3 separate regions of the Homo sapiens genome follow, and all the other regions are linked to region 1. The links come from fine-mapping of genetic effects on gene expression. A gene starts in region 1. Each other region holds a variant in brackets. All regions are shown on one strand. Distances are between the middles of the regions.

Region 1 (8,000 bases):
AACAGCTTCTACAACATACTCTCCTGTGATCGGCCATCTCTGCCAATGCTTGAGTCAATTGGACCACAAGTAATATTCAGCTAATCAGAACTCGGCAATCAGCACTCAAGAATCAACTAGAAATGGTTCTTGCTCCTGCTTCCTGCCTTTCTCCACCTGGGAAGATGTCCCCTGTGGACTAACTGCCTTACCCTGGCTCCCTTGCTATCCAGCTTCCTGCTGGGTGTGGCCAATGGGAGGCCCTGGCTGAAGATGAAAGCAGTGGGGAGAAAGAGGCGGGGGTGTTTCTTCCACACTCCCTCCATTCCTCACTGCGGTTCTGCCCATGGCTGTGTTTCTCCTGCTTGGGGACAGGGGTCCCCCTTTCATAGCACCAGCTTTCACTGGGCTCCAGAACATCACTTCCTCTTCTTTCCCTTTGGACATGTGAGTGGTAGTGGCTTCCTGTGGTTGGTGCTAGTCTCTGGGTGCTTTACCAGCCTTCCTAAACAGTCCCTGTATTAAACTCTCTTCAGTTGAACCCTTTCTGAGTGTGCCATCTGTTTCCTGCCAGGACCCTAACTAATACAAATCATAATGAGTGACTAATATAAAATAATAAGGTGTTAATCACTGCAAAGGTGTCTGGGTAGAGAGAACGTGACTAGGCCATTGCCAGGCCAGAGAACAGAAAGCAGGTGGTACAGACAACTCAATGTAGGCAATTTGCATATGGTTTTTTCCTTGGGACTGGCTGGCTCTGGAGCTACCACTGGAAGAATGGACAGATGGGCAGGGGATCTGGACCCAAGAAGGCTGTCACTGCCCCTGAGGAGGCAATGATTCCTCTGATATGCAGCTCTGGATCTTGGGGGTGGAGGGCATTGGGTGTTTGCTGAAACGGTTTCCAAAGCAGATAGGGTTGGCAGCCTTGAAAAGGAGCTGCGTGGCCTTGGGCAGGTCACATCCCCTCTCTGGACCTTTTCTGTCTGTTTAATAAAGGACCTGGCTTGATTTCTAAAGTTGTTTCTAGCTCAGGGAGTTTGGGAGGTGAGTTTGGGAATGTGGGAAATGTCAGCATCCCCTCCCCAACAGGGAGGCTGGAATTCAGCCCCTTTCCTGCAATGTGGTGCTCTTGTATTCTTGCCGGCAAGTAAGGGGACTCAGGAAGGCTCAAGGCTGGGCCCCTCACCAGTAGAGAGTACTCACAGCTGCCTCCAGGCCCTGCAGAGCCACAAGATGGACATGGTGGCTTTCCTTGACAGTCATCTTTATTCGAATATTTGGGGCCTTCACCACTATTTTTAATGAAAACAAGCACAAACACATGATGGAGTGTGCAGGCTGCAGGGGCTGGGAGTGGAGAGTTTGAACAGAGTTGGGCCTTGGAGCCCCTCCTGCTCTGAGACCAGGTCTGGGCTTGGGGAGGGAAGGTGGGTTTGACTTCCTCTGGTCTCGGAGGGAGGAGAAAGTCAGTGCTCCAAAGGCCCTCTCAGCTGAGCCCTTCCTGTCCTGCCCTGGTGTTGAGGAAACAGTGCTTGAGGTTTCTGGACCATGGTCCTTGGGCAATGCCTGTGTCTCACCCTGATGCAACCCCAGGAGGCTCAGTGGTGGGCAGTGTGGTAGGGAGAAAGGAAGTGAAAAGGGGGGAGGGAACTGGGCCCAGCTCAGAGGCTCTATCCCCCTGGGGAAGGGGTTGGCAGGGCAATTGCTCCCCTTTCTCTAATTCCAGGCCCTCCCCGGCTGCTAGGCCCTGGGGAAGAGGGAGTCTGGTTTCAAGGGTGTCCTGAGCAAAGCCAGTCCAGGAAGGGTTGAGATGGGGTGGTGCTCTAGGATCTTGCCCTTAAGGGACCCCCCTCACTTGCCAGAGGATGTCAGGGTGAGAAGGGCCCGGTGTCCACCTGATCTCAGTTGGCTTTGTACCTCCCCTGGTGGAAGGGAGCTCATGCTATGCCAGCAGGAAGGGCCCTGGGCTGCCTTCCAAGGTGGGGTCACAAGGCCAGGAGCATGCCCAAGGACCTGGGTTATGTCCTGCCAGCCTCTGGGGCTCCCATCCTGGGGAGTTCACTGGCTCCAGGGGGACTGGGCCTGCACAAGTTCACTTAGTAATAACATGATGCCTCAGCCTTCCTCTGTTGTAGCCTTCCCTGCCCTTAGAGCAAGGGCTAAGGGCCTCCAGAGAGCCCGTGACTTGGATCAGGCCACCCACAAGGCCCCCAGGACTCCTGGCTCCCATTGAGTCCTGATACCCTGGTTCCTGACCCAGTCAGACTCTGAGTGTCCTCTGCCTCTCAGCCTAGGAGTCACCTATTAACCCAAGATCCCTAAAGTGCCAGAAAAACCCCTGGAAGCTTCAGCTAGACTGGGGTAAACTGAGTAAAATGGCTGTGCTCTTCCACTCCTGTGATCCCTGGTCCTGGCCACGATCACCTCTGCTCCTCCATCACACAATCACTCACTCACTCATTGGTTTGTCCATTCAGATAAAAGTGCAGTAAAACCTTCTCCACGCCCAGCTTTGTGCTAGGGTCTCAGAAACATCAGAGAGAGGTTTGTAGTTTCGCTCTGGAGGGCAGAACAGCCGGAAGAAGAACCAACTGCTGGTTATCTCAGGCTGGAGGTGGTAGCTGAAGGGGGTGTGGACAGTAAGGATTTGCCGGGAAAAAGGAAGGGTCAGGACATTTCGTGAAGTGGGAGGACTTGAGCTGAGCCCTGAGGGATGAGAAGAATTAGGAGGGGAGAGACATTCCAGTGGTGCCAGCAGTGCTGGGTGTGGGTGCAAGAGCAGAGGCACTAGAAGTTAGGGTGCATCAGAGTGTCCTGCAGATATCCAGGCACCAGGGAGGGAGGGCGGGTGCACAGCCAGGCGGACAGCTGAGGCCTCTGCCGGAGGGGAGCTTGCAGGATGTGCTGTGGGGCACGCCAACAGGTGTTGCCTGCATATCTGTGTGTGTCCCGGGGTAGGGATGTGCTGATCTTGGCGTGTAGTCCTGCACCTGTTCTGTGTGTGTGTGTGTGTGTGTGTGTGTGTGTGTGTGTGCGCGCGCGCATGCACTCAGGGTGCCTCAGGCTCTGAATCTACAGTTAAACTGGCTCCAGCTTGCCTAGCTCTTCACAATGTCAGATTTCATTCATTCACTCATTTACTCACTCATTCCACAGCTGGGAGTGCCTACCACATACCAAGCCCTGGTCTGGCTGGAGGATGTAGGGTACAAGTCTCTGTCCCCAGATCACTCAAAGGCTGGTGGCTGAGGGCAGATGCAAGCCATGGTAACGTCTATCACGCTGTTAGAGGTAGATCTACTTCTTAGGCTGCGCAGCAATAATAATTTCTCTCCAAAAGGACTGGGGGACGGTAGAACGGGCTTTAAACTGCCGATCAAGTGGAGCTGACTCGCTGGGACGCACGCTGGCTCCCCACCCACGGGGCCGGCCTCCGGGAAGCCCCTCCCACGCGGCCCTCGGAGAGGCAGTTCCCCCACACGGCCCCCCGGGGGCGCTGCGCGAAGGGGGCGGGTGCCTGGAGCACGGCGCTGGGGCCGCCCGCAGCGCTCACTCGCTCGCACTCAGTCGCGGGAGGCTTCCCCGCGCCGGCCGCGTCCCGCCCGCTCCCCGGCACCAGAAGTTCCTCTGCGCGTCCGACGGCGACATGGGCGTCCCCACGGCCCTGGAGGCCGGCAGCTGGCGCTGGGGATCCCTGCTCTTCGCTCTCTTCCTGGCTGCGTCCCTAGGTAAGGTCGGGGGAGGCGGGGCGCTGGGAAAAAGCTGGGAGAAGACAGCAGACTGGAGTGGGAACTGTGGGATGGGGGCGTCCTGGGGGCCCTCTCAGCCTGTGTGACCGTGCACCCCACTCCACCCACCGCCCAGAGGCTGCTGGGACCCCTAGGCAGGGTGCAGTGGCAACTGTGCCAAGTGCCCCAGCTAGGCATCGGGCACATCTGCATGCTCTGACAGCTGCCCAAGTGGCAGGCAGGGCTGTCCCCTGAGGGCTGCCTGTCCAGCCCTTCCCTGCCCAGAGAACCCAGGGCACAGGTAGCTTCTGCAAAGAAGGAGAGGCACAGGGTGGGGGCGGTCAGTGTGTTCTGGTGGATATCACTGGCTTTTGACAGCTGGCATCTTTCTGCCCCTCTAGTCTCAGGGCTCTAGTGTTGCAGAGGACACAGAGGGCGTGGTATGCTCAGCCAGTGCCCCATGCCCTGGTGAAACCCCTGGCTGAGCCTTGGTGGGCACTGGGCACTGGTCACGGTGGGTCCACTTTCAGACACAGAGGCAGCACTGCCCACCTGGTCCCTATTCTAAGGGTCTGATGGCCCAGGAATAAGTGGTCAGCTGATTCCTGCCATCCTAGCAAGGCTGCCACTCAGGGACCAGTGTGGAGTACTGGGGAGGATGTGGGACACTCTTCAGCTCAGCTATGAGCCCCTTCTGGGTCCCTGGATAAATTACGGCATCTCTCTGGCCTCAGTTTCCTCAGCTCAAACACAGAAGCCCACACAGGGAAGCACCATTTTCCCCTTCCAAAGTCCAGACTGTCAGCATGTTCAGATAGTATCCTGGCCCCAACACAGGGGCTCCCGGGCTGGGGGCAGAGGCCCTGGTACCCATGGCCTGGTTGCCTAGTTCTTGCCTGCCCAGAGCTGAAGAGGCTGGATCTCTTCAAAGAGCCTGTGGAACCAAACTTTATAGGGAGGGCCCAGGGAAAGTATGAGTCATGCAGGGACTCGGAGGGAGGCAGGAGGGAGGTGGAGGGCTTGGCACAGGGACCCAGTGGGCAGGATGGAATAGAAGGAGAGGGTGATAGGATAAGAGGGAGAGGAGGAGGCTGAACCTGGAAGATACCTTAGCAACCTGGGTGCCCACAGGCAGCTGGCTATCTCAGCACTTGGAGGCTGGCCTGGGCCTCTGAGGAGGAGGAGGGCTCCACATGTCACAGACACAGCTGCCCTAAGCCCCAGGGTGGATGCTTCTCAAGGTGACAGTCAGAGGGAGGAGGAGAATGGGAGGTGGAATGGACAGTCTCAGCACCAAGGCCATGGCTCATGGCAGGGCATGGCTTCCAGAAGGAACAGAGGATGGTGGCAGGCAGGCAAGCCAGCATCCCACCTGTCATGGGCCACCTGCCCTGCACTGCCCTCCCTGGTGGCCCTGTGAGACCCTTCCTGCTTTCTTGCCCACTTCCTGCCCTCACTTGGCTGGGCTGCCCTCTGTTCAGCAGCCCCAATTTGAGAAACATTTCTAGAGATCCAGGGCACAGGGACCCAGCTTGCAGAGCACCCAGTAGCAGAGAGGCCCCAAGAGGAGCTCAGGACGCCTTCCCCTATATTGCTTATATGGCCAGGGGCCTTTACTCCCAGAGGTCTTGGCTACTCAAACAACATGGTATACTAAAGGGTCATCTCTTCCTGGGCCCAGCACAGGGAGATGATTTAGGCTGGCTGCAGCTTTCCACTGAAAGGAGCCAGAAGCATTTGAATTGCTCTGGGACCTCAGGATTCTGAACTGTGACATGGACACACTATAATAGATATTCACCCAACTCCCTAGGACAGTGTGCACTGAGGGAGATAGCAGATGGGAGGCCTGGTTGCAGGCATGGTCAGCAGGATCTGTAAGTTGAGAAGATTGATCACCAGCCTGCCGAGGTGCTGGGTTGCCCTGGGTATGTTGCCCAAGGTCAAAGCCTTTATGCCAGGGAAAGTGAGATAGAGTGGCCGGGGCCAGCCTGTTCTCCAGCTCTTGGGGTTGGGCCAGCACTGAGGAGAATGGTAGTGATGAATGTGGTGTTCAGAAGCCCAGGAAACACCAAAGATACCCCTTTCCTGGGCCTGACTCAGGGTGAGATGGGTGGAGAGGTACACTTAGGGACCAGGACCCAGCAGATCTCAAGGGTAGCAGAGCCTCTTCTTCCCCACAGACATTCCCAGGACCCGAGGCAGTTACTGTCCTTGCCCTGTCCTCACAGGCTGACTCAGGACTCCCAACCTCTGGGACTAGCACATTTAAGTGCACTGGGGCTAGGGACGAGAGACCCCATCTTCTCCTTCATAGCAAACCAGGCTGCAGGGCCTTGTTGAGTAACCCAGTGCTGCAAGCCTCTGACGCAGCAATGGTCAGCTCTTAGGAAATCCACAACCCACTGCCCAGAGGCTCTGGAGTAGAGAGGAACAGCCTTGAGGCCAGTCCCTGGCATGAGGGGTCATCTACCCAATGCCAGGGACACCCAAGGGCCAGCAATACTGGGAGTCCCTTGCTGAGCTGTACTAGTTGTTCATGCTTCCACCCAAGCAGGGCAAAGGTTCCGCTGGGGTCTGACCTTCCTGGGAGAGGGTGGTCCAGGCAGGAGTGTGCTGCTGAGACGCTAAAGGGGTCACCTCCCTATCCGCACACAGTGTATGGGGTGTTAGGCCTGAGCAGATGAAAGGAAGAAAGGGATCCTCAAGGAGAACCCGTTGGCAGTGAGCGAGCCCCACATACCAAACTTGAGGCCCCAGGCTTTAGCCAACCAATGACCCAGGGTCAGTCTGGTCTCCCAGGGGAGGGTGGGCCAGGGATCAGCACTGTGGCTTCCAGTGGCCCCACAGATGCCCTTAGCTGCAGTCCCAGCATGCCTGTATATGGCAAAGCCAGGGACATGCATGCCAGGGCTTCCGTACAGCCCCTTGCTTAACTCTTGGGCTTTGTGAGTCACTCAGACCTAGGCTTAAATCCCAAGATGGCCATTTACTGCTCTGTGATATTGGACAAGTTATTCAGTCTCCCTGAGCAAGTTCCCCTCCCTCTAAAGTGGGAAGATGATACCACCTCCCTTGGAGGGCAACTGTGAAGAGCCAATGAACGAACACTTAACACAGCACCCGGCTCCTCGTGAATACTGTGTAATATTATGGTATTTCTTGGCTTCTGCAGGCCACATGCCATTGGCTTTCTATCTAAGCTGCTTGCTCTCTACAGGGCCTAATGGAGTGCCCAGGGCCTGGGAAGGCATTGGTGAGCTTCACTGGGACTAGATTCTCCAAAGCCTGGAGTATGAAGGGTGCATGGGCTGCGTCCAGCTACCTGTGAGCCCCTGTAGGCCCTCACAGTCTGAAATGCCCATGGAGGTGCCTACAGGTTCTCTTCTTAAAGTTGTCAGGAGATGGGGACATTGCAACTTGAAGGCAAGCCTGGCCCTGGGTTTGCTTATCTTGGTGGATCTTTCTTACATCTGATCTTTTTACATTCGGTCCATTCACTTTGGCTGGCCATCACCAAAGACAAAGACAGTGGCCACCATCTTTCTCATCAGTAATCCAATAATGAGGTTGCTCTGCTACTTACCAAGCCAAGCAAGCCCATTCCTTTAGCCTTTCTGCGTAGGATCTTATTTCCCATGGGGACCTGGGGTCAAACCCTGCCTCTGCTGTTCACTCATCATGGGAACACAAACACACACTTCCCCTTTGTCTGTGCAATGGACAGGTTGGGTGACGTGGTCTCAGTGAGGCTGACCACCCTCCTCTGAAGGTTAATTCCATGATGGTGTTTCCCTAGCTTCAGTCATTTGCTTATCACCTTTGTGATCTCTGCAGTGTCTGCCTTTCATAATATTTACTTATTTTTTTCTTTAAATCTACTCATTCTTTTATTTGAGTATGTAGATCTTTAAAAGGAAACTTTTTATCGCTGTCATTAGTGGAAAGCCAGTATCACTTGTCATAAATAGAACAAAACCATAAAAGAACGTAACAGGAAAACCATATAAGGGTATTGAATTCTAGTTGGAAACTTTAGCCTGGGAAGGCTCGGAGTCTGAAAACTGCTGCTTTCCCTTGCAAAAAATTAAAATAAAATAAAATTTAAAAAGAAAAGGAGATTAGCAAATGTTTTAGAGACATATTAGCATCAAACTGAGACTTTCTCTTTGATGTAATCAGGACTGAAATAATTGTAAAGGGAATAACCTCTTCTATATATGATTCAATGTTATTTAATGTAAAACCAAAAGTAAAACTATGTGGTAGACGTGGCCAGGCAAGCTG
Region 2 (8,000 bases), 25 kb after region 1:
AACCCCGGCTTTGAAGCCTCACCACCTGCCCAGGGGATACCCGAGGCCAAAGTCAGGCACCCCCTGTCCTATGTGGCCCAGCGGCAGCCTTCTGAGTCTGGGCGGCATCTGCTTTCGGAGCCCAGCACCCCCCTGTCTCCTCCAGGCCCCGGAGACGTCTTCTTCCCATCCCTGGGTAAGTGTTTCCTGACCTTCACAGCACGATGACCTGTAAGGTCATGACCTCATGGCCTGCAGGGCATCGGCCTCACTCCCTGCCCTCCCTGAAGAGTTCCACGGCCTCACGGGGTGGGGTTGAGGGTGAGGGACAGAGGGGCCCCCATTCACCTCCCTGAAGAGTTCCACGGCCTCACGGGGTGGGGTTGAGGGTGAGGGACAGAGGGGCCCCCATTCACCTCCCTGAAGAGTTCCACGGCCTCACGGGGTGGGGTTGAGGGTGAGGGACAGAGGGGCCCCCATTCACCTCCCTGAAGAGTTCCACGGCCTCACGGGGTGGGGTTGAGGGTGAGGGGCAGAGGGGCCCCGTTCACTTTGCTTCTCCTTTTCTTGCAGACCCTGTCCCTGACTCTCCAAACTTTGAGGTCATCTAGCCCAGCTGGGGGACAGTGGGCTGTTGTGGCTGGGTCTGGGGCAGGTGCATTTGAGCCAGGGCTGGCTCTGTGAGTGGCCTCCTTGGCCTCGGCCCTGGTTCCCTCCCTCCTGCTCTGGGCTCAGATACTGTGACATCCCAGAAGCCCAGCCCCTCAACCCCTCTGGATGCTACATGGGGATGCTGGACGGCTCAGCCCCTGTTCCAAGGATTTTGGGGTGCTGAGATTCTCCCCTAGAGACCTGAAATTCACCAGCTACAGATGCCAAATGACTTACATCTTAAGAAGTCTCAGAACGTCCAGCCCTTCAGCAGCTCTCGTTCTGAGACATGAGCCTTGGGATGTGGCAGCATCAGTGGGACAAGATGGACACTGGGCCACCCTCCCAGGCACCAGACACAGGGCACGGTGGAGAGACTTCTCCCCCGTGGCCGCCTTGGCTCCCCCGTTTTGCCCGAGGCTGCTCTTCTGTCAGACTTCCTCTTTGTACCACAGTGGCTCTGGGGCCAGGCCTGCCTGCCCACTGGCCATCGCCACCTTCCCCAGCTGCCTCCTACCAGCAGTTTCTCTGAAGATCTGTCAACAGGTTAAGTCAATCTGGGGCTTCCACTGCCTGCATTCCAGTCCCCAGAGCTTGGTGGTCCCGAAACGGGAAGTACATATTGGGGCATGGTGGCCTCCGTGAGCAAATGGTGTCTTGGGCAATCTGAGGCCAGGACAGATGTTGCCCCACCCACTGGAGATGGTGCTGAGGGAGGTGGGTGGGGCCTTCTGGGAAGGTGAGTGGAGAGGGGCACCTGCCCCCCGCCCTCCCCATCCCCTACTCCCACTGCTCAGCGCGGGCCATTGCAAGGGTGCCACACAATGTCTTGTCCACCCTGGGACACTTCTGAGTATGAAGCGGGATGCTATTAAAAACTACATGGGGAAACAGGTGCAAACCCTGGAGATGGATTGTAAGAGCCAGTTTAAATCTGCACTCTGCTGCTCCTCCCCCACCCCCACCTTCCACTCCATACAATCTGGGCCTGGTGGAGTCTTCGCTTCAGAGCCATTCGGCCAGGTGCGGGTGATGTTCCCATCTCCTGCTTGTGGGCATGCCCTGGCTTTGTTTTTATACACATAGGCAAGGTGAGTCCTCTGTGGAATTGTGATTGAAGGATTTTAAAGCAGGGGAGGAGAGTAGGGGGCATCTCTGTACACTCTGGGGGTAAAACAGGGAAGGCAGTGCCTGAGCATGGGGACAGGTGAGGTGGGGCTGGGCAGACCCCCTGTAGCGTTTAGCAGGATGGGGGCCCCAGGTACTGTGGAGAGCATAGTCCAGCCTGGGCATTTGTCTCCTAGCAGCCTACACTGGCTCTGCTGAGCTGGGCCTGGGTGCTGAAAGCCAGGATTTGGGGCTAGGCGGGAAGATGTTCGCCCAATTGCTTGGGGGGTTGGGGGGATGGAAAAGGGGAGCACCTCTAGGCTGCCTGGCAGCAGTGAGCCCTGGGCCTGTGGCTACAGCCAGGGAACCCCACCTGGACACATGGCCCTGCTTCTAAGCCCCCCAGTTAGGCCCAAAGGAATGGTCCACTGAGGGCCTCCTGCTCTGCCTGGGCTGGGCCAGGGGCTTTGAGGAGAGGGTAAACATAGGCCCGGAGATGGGGCTGACACCTCGAGTGGCCAGAATATGCCCAAACCCCGGCTTCTCCCTTGTCCCTAGGCAGAGGGGGGTCCCTTCTTTTGTTCCCTCTGGTCACCACAATGCTTGATGCCAGCTGCCATAGGAAGAGGGTGCTGGCTGGCCATGGTGGCACACACCTGTCCTCCCAGCACTTTGCAGGGCTGAGGTGGAAGGACCGCTTAAGCCCAGGTGTTCAAGGCTGCTGTGAGCTGTGTTCGAGCCACTACACTCCAGCCTGGGGACGGAGCAAAACTTTGCCTCAAAACAAATTTTAAAAAGAAAGAAAGAAGGAAAGAGGGTATGTTTTTCACAATTCATGGGGGCCTGCATGGCAGGAGTGGGGACAGGACACCTGCTGTTCCTGGAGTCGAAGGACAAGCCCACAGCCCAGATTCCGGTTCTCCCAACTCAGGAAGAGCATGCCCTGCCCTCTGGGGAGGCTGGCCTGGCCCCAGCCCTCAGCTGCTGACCTTGAGGCAGAGACAACTTCTAAGAATTTGGCTGCCAGACCCCAGGCCTGGCTGCTGCTGTGTGGAGAGGGAGGCGGCCCGCAGCAGAACAGCCACCGCACTTCCTCCTCAGCTTCCTCTGGTGCGGCCCTGCCCTCTCTTCTCTGGACCCTTTTACAACTGAACGCATCTGGGCTTCGTGGTTTCCTGTTTTCAGCGAAATTTACTCTGAGCTCCCAGTTCCATCTTCATCCATGGCCACAGGCCCTGCCTACAACGCACTAGGGACGTCCCTCCCTGCTGCTGCTGGGGAGGGGCAGGCTGCTGGAGCCGCCCTCTGAGTTGCCCGGGATGGTAGTGCCTCTGATGCCAGCCCTGGTGGCTGTGGGCTGGGGTGCATGGGAGAGCTGGGTGCGAGAACATGGCGCCTCCAGGGGGCGGGAGGAGCACTAGGGGCTGGGGCAGGAGGCTCCTGGAGCGCTGGATTCGTGGCACAGTCTGAGGCCCTGAGAGGGAAATCCATGCTTTTAAGAACTAATTCATTGTTAGGAGATCAATCAGGAATTAGGGGCCATCTTACCTATCTCCTGACATTCACAGTTTAATAGAGACTTCCTGCCTTTATTCCCTCCCAGGGAGAGGCTGAAGGAATGGAATTGAAAGCACCATTTGGAGGGTTTTGCTGACACAGCGGGGACTGCTCAGCACTCCCTAAAAACACACCATGGAGGCCACTGGTGACTGCTGGTGGGCAGGCTGGCCCTGCCTGGGGGAGTCCGTGGCGATGGGCGCTGGGGTGGAGGTGCAGGAGCCCCAGGACCTGCTTTTCAAAAGACTTCTGCCTGACCAGAGCTCCCACTACATGCAGTGGCCCAGGGCAGAGGGGCTGATACATGGCCTTTTTCAGGGGGTGCTCCTCGCGGGGTGGACTTGGGAGTGTGCAGTGGGACAGGGGGCTGCAGGGGTCCTGCCACCACCGAGCACCAACTTGGCCCCTGGGGTCCTGCCTCATGAATGAGGCCTTCCCCAGGGCTGGCCTGACTGTGCTGGGGGCTGGGTTAACGTTTTCTCAGGGAACCACAATGCACGAAAGAGGAACTGGGGTTGCTAACCAGGATGCTGGGAACAAAGGCCTCTTGAAGCCCAGCCACAGCCCAGCTGAGCATGAGGCCCAGCCCATAGACGGCACAGGCCACCTGGCCCATTCCCTGGGCATTCCCTGCTTTGCATTGCTGCTTCTCTTCACCCCATGGAGGCTATGTCACCCTAACTATCCTGGAATGTGTTGAGAGGGATTCTGAATGATCAATATAGCTTGGTGAGACAGTGCCGAGATAGATAGCCATGTCTGCCTTGGGCACGGGAGAGGGAAGTGGCAGCATGCATGCTGTTTCTTGGCCTTTTCTGTTAGAATACTTGGTGCTTTCCAACACACTTTCACATGTGTTGTAACTTGTTTGATCCACCCCCTTCCCTGAAAATCCTGGGAGGTTTTATTGCTGCCATTTAACACAGAGGGCAATAGAGGTTCTGAAAGGTCTGTGTCTTGTCAAAACAAGTAAACGGTGGAACTACGACTAAACCCTGGGTCTCCTGCTTCCTCCTCACTGAATGGATTGGTATTATGGGCCAGGGCCTGGCTTGGCCTTCACCTTGGACTTGCTTAGAGCACATACAAGGGCTCTG[G/C]GAGATGAACTTGTGCCCACAGGTCCAGGGCTCCACTGTACTGCACACCAGAAACGTTCCTATCTGTGCTCTGCCTGCCCTGGCCTGGGCCTTCTTCTGGGTCCAGAAGACGCTGCTGCTGATGGGTAGGCTCCTTCCATATCAGCTCCTGCCACTCCCTTTTCTGCCTGCCAACTGTGGAGCTAGAGGACTCCTGATAGGCACAGTGGCCCATGCACCCCTCTTGCTTGCATTAGGGGATGGGGAAGGGAGAAACCCTCAGCAGCTGAGCCCCAGGGTCTCTTGGAGGAACTTAGCCAGTTGTATGTGGAGCATCTGGGCAGCTGTGGAACATCCCTCAAGAAGCCAGGCCAAGGGAAGGGTCTGGATGTACTTGTGCTGGGTCAGGGAAGGCCAGCCTTCTTGGTGCCACAGAGGGTGAGGGCCAGGCTGGGACCTTCTGATCTCAAGCCAGGGGAAGCAGAGTTCACAATAGCAGGGTCCAAGTCTAATAAACAGAAGGGGCCTCTGCTCTAAAGACATGAGGTGTACTGCCAAGAGCAGTGTCCCCAGCTCATAGACCGTCACGGGGCCGCTGCTGGGGACTTGCATACCAGAAGGGGGCGGTGGGAGATTTCTGTCCTTCTGCCTGGATAGGTGACTTCTGCAGGTCCTCACCAGCCTGAGAAGCCAGGGCTTCTTATCTGGAATAGTAGTATCGGTTGGCTGCAATTCACGTGGCAGGGAGGCCACAGTTAGGCCCTCCCTCCCTCTCCACCCCACTGCCAAGTGCCTCTGAGGTTGGGCTAACTCCTGACCTCCCAGTTACCTTCCGCCCTTCCTCCCTGGGCCCAGCTCTTCCTTTGCAGGGGCCTCCCTGACAACCACTTAAACCCCTCCCCCAAGCCTGGCCTGTCTTCCCATGGCCTGGAGCTAGGCAGGGGCTGAGGCTCCACAATGACTCCCCCGGCCAGTGGCACACCATTGTGTGGCGGGCCTGGGTCTGGCCCAGATACCCCTTGCAGCACAGCTGTTCCGAGTTCGGGTGATATGGGCTGAGGCCGGATGGGGGTGGCCTAGGCTGTTTGCAGGAATGTCCAGCTCTCAGGAACCTGGGGGGACGAGGGTCTCAGGGAGAAAAGTAGAGCTGGAGGGACTCAGAGAATTTCTCTTGGCTCTGGGGAGGGTCTTAGCAGCCAAATCTCAGGCCCCCTGCTTAGGGAGCCACATCTTTCAAAACAGGGATGCAAATGATGCTTCCTCCAGAAAACCTGCCCTGGCTTCCAGGCTCCTAGCACTCTACCACATCACAGTGTCAGCTCTCCAGTACATGTGCCTTCCCCTGCCAGACCGTAGGCTCCTGGAGGGCAGACCTGTGCCTGATGTATCTCTGGTGTCCTAGCCTGTACTACAGGCCTCACACATAACACATACTTGGTGTTGGATGAACAAATGAATGAATCTTTCATGCCCTTGTCCTCCAGCAAGGTTGGTCCTGAGCCAGTGAAGGCCATTTTGAAGCCAGGCAGATAACTGCAGTGGGAGTAAAAGGATGGCAAGTGGGCCTGCTGGCTTTCTCTGGATGGATCTATGCAGGGTAGCAGCTGCTGTCTCACCCATTAGACTGTGGCAGCCATTCCTGGAATCTCAGGGTGGTTGGCTGCATGCTGCTCAGGTCTCTGGTTGCTCTAGGAGGGGCTGGGACAATGCTCCTTCCTCATACACGCATCCAGTGAAATCTGCCCAGAGGCAGAGAAGGGCTCTGCTCTTGGGGATATTCATAACCCTGAGGGGTTTACTGCCCAAAGTTGAGGGTCTGGTCAGTGGAAGCAAATCTTCAAGGGTCCAGTGCTCCTTGGAGGCAAGCTACCCTGGTAGGCACTGTGGGCTGCAGGACCCCTGCTTGCTAGCTCTGCCCCATCCCCACCTTGGCTCGGCCAGGCATGGAGGCAGTAGAGGGGGGGTCTTGAGAAGGCAGCGGGAGCAGCTCTTATGGCGAGTCCCATATACACTGTCCCGGGAGGATATGGAAATAGAGAGTCCTGCCCTTGGCCTTGGAAGCAGCCCCGGGCCTAAACCACCTGTGGCTCCCAGAACCCATCCCTGATTATTGCTTGCTCTTCAGCCTTTGTGCAGGCTGAACCCCAGAATATGCTTCTTTCTTGGCTGTGCTAACCAAGACTGACCAACAAGACTCGGCCCAGGTGTCACCTCCTCCAGGAAGCCTTCCCCAAGCCCTTCTCAGTGCCCCATTGCACACCAGTGTTTTCATTGCCTCCCTTACTCAACTTCATTTCTTCAGGCCACAGACCACATTTTCTTCATTTCGGTATCTCCAGTGCCTGGCACATAGTGGCCATTCAGGGACAATGGCTGAATGAATGAATGAGTGAATGAGTGAATGAGTGAATGAATGAATAAATATGGTTTAGTGCTAGTTTCTCTATGTCCCTATGGTCACTGCAATTCTTCACTGAGGTGTCCCCTGCAAAAACCAAATGATAGCAATATTTTCCCAACTTGGAGAAGCAGGGGGAAAAATTGAAGATGGATGGATTCTTTTCGACTTAAAATTGTTTTCCTATACATCTTTCAAGTTGGTACCTGTTGCTGTTTATATTACGGTCTGGAAGAAAGCATCATGGTTCAGCCCAGGAAGCCCCATATATATTCCCCTGGAGATGGATGGCCTCAGGGTCCCTGGTCCTAATCATCCTGAGGGTGTTTTCTGGGGCCTCAGGGAGCAGAGCTGGTGATGACCAGGATGAGCAGGGCGGATGCTACCCAGCTTCTCCTGCTCTCACCGGGGAGCTGGTATGGGCTGAGCCCTGCTTCAGTGAGAACCAGAATGTCAGGGGCTGACATGTGAGGTGGGAATGCTTATGCTCCCCAAGGGGTGGGATGGGTCCCTGCAGAGGGTTTGGCCAGCAGATGGAAACTCTTTTTAGCCATGGGGACCAATCCCAAGATTTTAAAGGATTGCTTGGATAGTGGCCCATGCATTCTGGGTGATTAACTGTGGCCAGGGTGATTTTCCATTTCTTCAATTCCCATTTATTCTGGGGACCCAAAGGAAGCCTGATTTTGCCTACAAACTGCAGGGTCTTAGAATGTTATGGATTCCACCGATGGTCTCCCTGAGAGACCCTAGGACTGTGGGGGTTGGAGTGTGGGTGGGGAGTGGGGGTGGTGCGTTGACTGGCCTGCATTAGGATTGGGGAGGGCAGTGTGGCAAATGCTGTCAGATGCCCACCCCAAATCCATTCTCCACTTCTTCCTCACTGACAGAGGCCTGCTTTTGTGTGGGAAGTGATATATCTGGCCCCCAAGTAATATGCTGACCATGATAATCCTGTCCCTCATTTTTTCTAACCTCCCTTGCAGCTAGGGTGCCCACGTGAGCCACTTCTGGCCAAGGAGACACAAGCAGCACTCTGGAGGGTGGTTCTGGGAAACCTGTTGCTTTCCTGATAAAAGGGCAGAAGTAGCTGCCATAGCCCTTTGCCATCTTTTTGTCATCTTCCTGCCTTGGATGCTGACTTGATGCCTAGAGTTATAGTAGCTATCTTGCCACCATGAGGGAAAGGCCAAGAAACATGAGCTCTGACACCTCTGAGCCTGAAATCCACA
Region 3 (8,000 bases), 40 kb after region 1:
AGTCCGCCCATTTGAAATGGGAAAAACAATACCTATCACACTGTTCTCAGGGTGAAAACAGACAAGGGTCCTTGTGATCGGATCCCTCCCAAACCCCCTCACTCTAGCTAAGGCCTCATTTAGACTCACCGTGTTTCCTCACACCACAGGGCTTTTGTGCTTGCCGTTCCCTCTGCCCGAAATGCTCTTCCTTTTTAGGCTGGGTTAACTCTCATGCATTCTGACGCTCTCAGCTTGAGTCCCTTCCTCAGGGAAGCCCTCTTCTAGTTCCCTGACACCTTATTATAGGCTTTCTCTCAGGGCATACATTTACTGCTGTGATCATTTGATCAATGTCTTTCCCTCACTGTATCGTACACTTAGGAAGGCAAGGGATATGTCTAATTTTGGTTTCTTGCTGTAACCTGAACCCAGCCTAGTGCCTGGGACACAGCAGGTGTTCCCACAATGACTACTGCTCTGATCTTGGTGAGGCTGCAAGGCAGGGGTGAGGGGGGCTGCTGGACTTCCCAGTGGAAGGGGGTTGGCCTCAGTGGGTGAGGAAGGAGGACAGGTTCCCAGGCCTATGGGAATGAGATGGGTGTCTGTGTCTTCACCCAGGGCCTCACAATCCACATTGCCCTCCCCTACCCCCTGAAGGCCTGAACTTACTCAAGAGCTCTTATAGCAGAGCCATGCCCTACCCAGCCTGCCCCTTCTGGTCTGCCTGACCACTCCTTCTGGGGCCGGCCAGGGCTGCTGGGGACAGGGAGGAGCCAGGTGGAGGTGAGCTGTGGTTTGGGTTCCGGCCTAGCAGAGGAAATGTTTCCACCTTTAAAGGGCCCCTTCCTCTGCCTCCACCCTAGCACCTCAAACAGTGTTTGGGGCTACCGGGGCTGGTGGATCTGGGGCAGCGGCCCCTGGGAGCCTCTCAGAGGAAGCCAGGGCAGAACAAAAGGGGGTGGGCCCTGCTAACCGGAAGAGGGCAAAGCACTGTGGAAATACAGGGGCACAGGCAGAAGTGTGTGCTCCGAAGCCCTCAACAGCCGTGCTGAGGAAGTGGCTGGCAGTCCACGCAGGGGGACCTCCTTTCCATCCCTGCCACCCTTGGGCTCCCACTGGCCTCTCCTCCCAGCCTTCTCGCAACACCTGCTGTGTGAGGGCCAGGTGGGCCCATTGTATGAATGAAGAGGGTGAGGCTCAGTAAGAGGGTCCCACTTTACCCCTGAGTGTCTGCCCCTTGGCTGGGAGTGGCAGGACGCAGGTGGCTCGGCACCCACTGCCCGAGCGCTCTGCTCACCGGCTGCCCTTGGGGAGCATAGCTGAGGGGAGCTGTGGAGACTTCTTGCCCATCACAGCCTCACTCACCCCCAGGCTGGCCCCACGGATGGAGGGGGCCTTTAGGTATGGCCCAGCCACAACCAGTGCCGCTAGAACTGGGCACCTCCAGGGAGCCTTGGGGCCAAGAACCCCAAGAAATTGTGTTTGGCTCTTGGCTTGGACACTGAGTTGGCTTCTAGCTTTTTTAGGTTAATGTGACAGGGACTCAGCAGGGCGTGGCAATGTGGCTGTAACCAAGGCTGATGAGGAGCCTGATGCCCCAGGTGGTCTCTAGATGGTAGCTGATGTGACTGGCCAGTGTCCAGGCCAGATTGATGGCTGAGTGTCCTGGGATCACCACAGGATGCCATCCCATGGACCTCTCTCAGGTAGCTGGCCCTGGACCCACTCCCATTGCAACCCCAGCATGAGCTCCCCTGCCTGCCTCTCCCTTCAGGCCGGGCCGCCTCTTCTAGGAACGTTGTCTGGCTCTTCTGACCTCAGTGGGCCCCCCTCCCCCAGGGGCCCAGCACATGGTCTTCTCTGCCTTTACTTAGAGGCTGTCCTGAGGGAGAAACAACCTGTGCCCATGGTCCCCTTCCTAAGCGCTCCCAGGCCCCACAATGTGCATCCCACCCCACACACTTGCACCAACCCCCAGGAGAGGGAGGGGGTCCCCTTTATGGATGCAGCAGCTGAGGCATCAGGACAGAGCCCCACTGCAGTCACATCTGCTTCCAGGACTGGCTTACAAAGGGCTTTCTGCCTGCAATCTCTTGCTGCTTCCATCTCATCCTCTGAGGATGGCAGGGATGCTGGCATGACCCTCGTTTTAGACCCGAGGAAGGGAAGCACAGAGACGTTAAGCAGCTTGCCTGTGTCACACAGCCATCGAGGAGTGGAGCTGGGATGAGCCCTCAGTGGTCTTCCAGTGACTCCTTTGCTAGTACTCTCCCCACCCAAGACCCTACCGGGGCTAGGCAAGACACAGAGGACAGAGTTGGAGGCAGGGGACATGCCCCAGAGGGGCCTGAACTCAGGTGTGAGAGTGGAGGCACTGGGAGGGGGCCTGCTGCAGGCCTGTCCACGTGCCTTCTCTCTGGGAGAGGTGGGAAGGTCCAGGGCCAGGCAGAGCCCGGCCAGCACTGGCCACAGCCAACAGCACAGGGGAAGCTCCAGCCACAGGCTACTCACCTTCTGTAGGCAGAGGCAGCAGCAGGAGGGGAGTGAGAGAAAAGGCAAAGATGCAAATGGTTAGCCGTCTGTGGCTCTTCCAGACCCCACTCCCGGCAGTGTCTCTGGAGGTGCCACCCTCCACCTGCCTGAGGTCTCATCCTAGCCCAACCTGCTGGGAAGGTGTGGCATGGCTGGACATGGCGAAGCCTCAGGCTATCAAGACCCTCGCCCGCTGCCTGGCCCATACATTGGGTGGCTGGCGAGGACATGGGTTAGGAAGTGTCATGGCCAGCGATGGGCCGCACCTGAGGGACTCTCACCCTGGTCCCACTCACCACGGTGGAGTCCACCTTGGGGCCGCCGTCATCTGCCACCACTGTCAAGGTATAGAAGTCGCCCTTCTCACGGTCCACCAGGCCCTGGACTGTGATCACACCCTGCAGGGAAGGGGCCAGATGGGTGAGTGACAACATCGCACCCTTGTTAACCCTGGTCATTCTGCCCACTTTTCCACCTCCATGTCACTTCCTCTGTCCGGCATAACTTCCCCAGGACACTCTGTCTGTTGAATTCCTTCTTCTCTCTCACATTCCACTGGGAAGCCACCTCTTCCATGAAGCCTTCCTGCTTCCCCAGCCAGGTATGACTGCTGGGCCCTGAGGGGCTCCACTACCCCTCTGTTGTAGTTCTCTGCACATCTTCTTGTGGCGCTCTGATTTGCATCCTGGATTAGTTCCATTTCCACTTCTAGCCTGAGAACTCTTTGAGGACTGAGAAGGGTCTTGTTCATCTTTGTGTCCATTTGTGTTCCCAGTATCCTCTAGGACAAGGCCTGTCACGTTGTAGTGATTCACACCTTGCCTACTTTCAAAGAAGGAATTCTGATAAAAGATACACTAAAGCAAAGA[C/T]GAAGGAGTAAGAGCCTGGCAGTAGATAAGAGACTGGTGTACCAGACAACTAGCTAAGAATAACTATTGCAATGAAGCCCAGCATTTATGTCTGAGCTTCCTAACAGCCAAGGTGAAAAGGGAAATATGACTTGCAGAGCTTTCTGTGACATTGTGATATAAGAAATATGCATTTGGTCTCTGTCCCTGGTTCCTGGCACAAAGCTCTTAATCCCCTGGCATTTCCTAGGTGATAGGAGTCTTTTGTTCTAATGAGGCAACTCTTGGTGGGGTCCTCGGTTGGGGCTGATCACCAGAAAGACCAAGCCAGGATAAACAGCTTGAAATGTTCAGCCCTGCCTCTACACCCTTTACTTTCCAGGAAGAGGACAGAGGCTGGAGATTCAGTTAATAATTGATCGTACCTATGTGATGAAGCCTCCATAGACATCCCTGAACTACAGAGAGCTTGCAGTCTGCTGAACATGTAGGGGTGCCTGGAGGGTGGCATGTCCGAGGAGGGCACCGAAGCTCTGGGCCCCTTCTCCCATGCCTTGCTCTGTGTGTCTCTTCATTCAGCTGTTTGTTGGTATCCTTTAGACTATCCTTCATAATACTTTGGTAATAGTAAGTAAAGTGTTTCCCTGAGTTCTGCAAGCTGCTCTAGCAAATTCATCGAACTTGTGGAGGGGGTTGTGGGAACTCTGATTTAGCCAGTTGGTCAGAAGCATGGGTCAAACAACCTAGAGGTTGTGATTGGCAGCTGAAGTGGAGGCAGTTTTGTGAGACTGAGCCCTCAACCTGTGGGATCTGACACTATGGTGTCTACTGGAGAATTGCGTGGTGTGTGGGAGGGACTGAGCTGTGAGCCTGTGGGATCTGACGCTAACTCCAGGTAGAAATGTTCAGAATTAAATCAAACTATAGGATTCCCAGCTGGTGTCAAGAGAGTCAGATAATTGGTTGCCGATAATGGGGGAAAACCCCACACACACTTCGATGACCAGAGGTGAAGGATCTGTGATGGGTGTGAAAACAGAAGGAAAAACAGAAGGATACCAGCCTGCATAGGTATAAACTTTATCTTACTCCTACATATGAAAATGGATGTGTTACAGGGATATTGATCTCGGGGACTTTTTTTTGTTTCTTTGTAAGAGACAAGGTCTCACTCTGTTGCCCGGGCTGGAGTGCAGTGGTGCAAACGCAGCTCACTGCAGCCTCCAAACTCCTGAGCTGAAGCAATCTTCCTGCCCCAGCCTCTCAAGCAGCTGGGACTACAGGTACCTAACACCACACTTGGCCATCTCAAGGACATTTTATGACAAAGAGGAGAGTGCTGTGCACACAGAAGGAGCTCAACCAATGTTGGTTAGATTGGAAGAAATGGTGCTCCCTGCCCCCAGCCCCTCACCGTGATGGCGTCTATCTTGAAGAGGGCTTTGGCCTGGGTGCTGGTGTAGGCGTTGAAGCGGTACGTGATTTGGTTGAGGTTGTCGATGGAGTAGGCCTGGACCCGCACAATCTCAGTACCCAGTGCCAGATTCTCCAGGATGGCAGCCTCGTATGAGGCATTGGAGAACTGCACGGCCTCGTCCAGCTCGTTGAGCAGAGTGATGTAGACGCTGCAGAAGCCCTGGTTGAAGGGCGGGGCCTGGTCAGTGGCCGACACATTCATCATGTAGCTGGTCTTGGTCTCGTAGTCCAGGTAATTCACGGTGATGATAAGCCCTGTGCTCTCGTCAATCTCAAACTTCCCCTCTGCGCCCGACAGGATGCGGTAGTTCACCAGGCCACCATCCCCTGTAGGAGGACACAGAGGCTGTGCAGTCCCAGATAGAACTGAGTGGGGCTGCGCTGTGGCTTCTCAAGCTGCCACACCCATACCCCCTGGGTGGCCCACCCAGCATGGGCTGCCCCACCTCTGCCGGCAGGATCATCCTCAGAGATGCAGCAGAGGATGTGTTAAGGTCAATGTGGATGGCAAGGTCCAGCATGCACTGTTGAGCCTTCCTCTGGGGCTTGGCCTTGGCACCAGAGATAGGACAGAAAGAGTTGGGTCTGCTCCTGGAGCCTCAAAATTCAAGCTCATGTACCTCCCTTTGATATCTGGACATACAAGCATTGGGGGAAATGAAGGATCTCTTGTAGTGGAGGCTTTGATCTAGAACGCATCCTCACAGATGGCCAAGCCTTGGTTTGGTCCCTTCGACAGAAGGGCTTCAGTGTCAGGGACACCTTCCCCCATCCTCCCCACTCCCTACGCCCCAAATTCCTGTGCCTTGAAACAAACCATTCAATCAGGAGCTAGAGCTGGGATTCCTAAGCTGAAGTTCACAGACCTCAAGGGGCCACAGCCGCGTATGTGCCCTAAACTCTCCTAACATGCCTGAGATTCCGCCTGAGAATTTGCAGCCATTCCTCCCTCCACCCCATCCCATGCATGCCACAGATAATCTGAGGATGCTGAGAGAGGAGTTGGGAGCCACCAGAGTAGCTGACATGAAGGATGAGCAGCTCAGGGAGCCTCTCTGGGGGACAGTGGGTCTCCAGAAAATGCTCCTTTTCAGCTGTATCCCTGACTGGGGTACAGGCCAGACAGCCCAGGCCGCACGGAGGGCCACAGAGACCCGGCATGCTTCCCCTTCATTTTGCACTGCGGGCTGTGGCCGCCTCTGGGGCTTGGGCCCTCAGCAAGGTTCAGGCTGCCTTCAGGCTACTGCCCTGCGGCACAGGAAGGGTACTGCCCCTTGTACAGGGTCAGGGGGTCTGCGTGTGCTAGGCCCTGAGCTGGTCCTGGAAGGCGTGGAGGGGCTGGAGGAGCAGGCCAGGCCGCAGCCAGCTTTCTGACCGGTCCTCTTTACCCCTCCCAGCTCTGCCCAGCCCCTCTCTAAAGGCTAGTGGGAGCTGCTGGGTCCTGGGATGACGGAGCTGGACTTCTCAAGCTTGTGGCCTCCCCTCTGTCCACCCAGTGGTTGGGACAACTCTCCCTGATTCCAACCCTCTCAGGCTGGGGCCACTGGTGGGAAGTGATCAAGACCATCCCAGCAGCCCCTCCCTGGCCTAGACATGGCTAAATGGGGAGCCTGAAGCATCAGGGATGACCGTTTCGAAGGAGGGGCTGGGTGAGCTGGGGAGGTTTGCTCTGAGCAATGGGATCCCCGGCTTCCTCCTGCCAGCCTCACCAGAGTCTCGGTCTGTGGCTTGGACCACGATGACTGACGTTCCAATGCCTGCGGTCTCTCGAAGCCCCAGACGGCTGTACTGCTGCTGTGTGAACACGGGGGCCTCATCGTTGATGTCCTCCACGTACACAATCACCTGTGGGAGCCGGGCCAGGGGTGCAAGGTCAGGGTGGGGTGGAGGCTGGGAAGCCCAGGGCTTGGCCCACTGTGGCCGCCTTGTGTGGTCACTGCTTTCCTGGGCCTGCTGTGAGCTCCCTCTAGGACCCCAGGCCTGTCTGGTGGGTCACTGTGACCACCACCTTGCACAGCACCTGGCGCGTGGCAGGTGCTCAAACATTACTTGTTTCGGAATGAACTTCATCTTGCTCTTGGCTTTTTGACTAATGCTGTGGAACATCTGACTAATTAGTGACTCTTTGGGGCCCCCAGTTTCCCAGCTATAAAGTGGTAATATTAAGATAATAATTCGGCCGGGCGCGGTGGCTCACGCCTGTAATCCCAGCAGCACTTTGGGAGGCCGAGGTGGGCAGATCACGAGGTCAGAAGATCGAGACCATCCTGGCTAACACGGTGAAACCCCATCTCTACTAAAAATACAAAAAATTAGCCGGGCGTGGTGGCGGGCGCCTGTAGTCCCAGCTACTCAGGAGGCTGAGGGAGGAGAATGGTGTGAACCCGGGAGGCAGAGGTTGCAGTGAACCAAGATCGCGCCACTGCACTCCAGCCTGGGCAACAGAGCGAGACTCCATCTCAAAAAAAAAAAATTAATAATAATAAAATAGTTCACACTCCATGCCACTCCTAAGGTTGTTATGAAGACAAAATGAGCCAGGGCCTGCAAAAGTTCTTGAAAAAATTCAAAGTGATCCCAATCAAATATTAAAATATATCTTGGAAAATAGAGGTGAAAATACAATGGCAGTTGTAGTAGAGAATGTCAGTGCTCAGTACTCTTTACTTGTGCACCTTCTCACGGCCAGCTCCCAGCCCCTAAGGCTCTTTGGGGAAGACCAACCCCACCCCACTGCACCCACACCCGGGCTGTTGGAAACCAGCCCAGTGAGCAGAAATGCCTGGGAACTTCCGTCCCCTAGGGCAGCCCTGAGCCAATGATTGATGGGCGTGGAGAGCAAAGACTCCAGCTTCCCTGGCCCTGTTTGGGGCAGTGAGGGGACGCTTTAGGGCTCCCTGGGGGACGGAGGCCTAGCTCCCTCCATGACACTTTGCTGTCTGTTTTTCCTTGCTGGTTGCACCCTGTTCCACCTTTTCCTGTGGGCGCTTCTTACACATTACTTTCACACCAATCCTTGTCTCAGGGTTTGCTTCTGAGGCCCCCATCCAAGGCAGTGGCTGTTTCTGAATTGTGCAATTACGCACCATTTTCCTCACCGCTTACCAGCACTAAGTTCTCTTTATGAATGTGTGCACTGTACATCATGAACGTAATACAGTT

What was found.
Region 2: its variant is fine-mapped to the expression of VSIR in whole blood (TOPMed, PIP above 0.99).
Region 3: its variant is fine-mapped to the expression of VSIR in whole blood (TOPMed, PIP 0.93).

The regions. Positions count from the first base shown.
Region 1 is chr10:71,769,071-71,777,070 of GRCh38, reverse strand. It overlaps VSIR (V-set immunoregulatory receptor), which reads left to right and starts at 3,551. Exons shown (of 7, transcript NM_022153.2): 1 at 3,551-3,713. The coding sequence starts at 3,632. All of the region lies in intron 38 of CDH23 (cadherin related 23), which reads right to left. RefSeq lists silencers at 3,322-3,651, 3,672-3,751.
Region 2 is chr10:71,743,843-71,751,842 of GRCh38, reverse strand. The region is part of intron 38 of CDH23 (cadherin related 23); the gene reads right to left. It overlaps VSIR (V-set immunoregulatory receptor), which reads left to right. Exons shown (of 7, transcript NM_022153.2): 6 at 1-175; 7 at 553-4,287. The coding sequence ends at 590. Among named protein-coding and RNA genes, the nearest start is that of VSIR, 26 kb to the left of the region's middle. RefSeq lists enhancers at 2,871-3,000, 3,201-3,250, 3,636-3,845. The variant G/C (reference allele first, on the strand shown) is at 4,392.
Region 3 is chr10:71,729,152-71,737,151 of GRCh38, reverse strand. CDH23 (cadherin related 23) reads right to left here. Exons shown (of 70, transcript NM_022124.6): 31 at 6,548-6,683; 32 at 4,777-5,165; 33 at 2,811-2,912; 34 at 2,494-2,496. It also overlaps a transcript of C10orf105 not described here. Among named protein-coding and RNA genes, the nearest start is that of C10orf105, 13 kb to the right of the region's middle. RefSeq lists a silencer at 7,471-7,662. The variant C/T (reference allele first, on the strand shown) is at 3,384.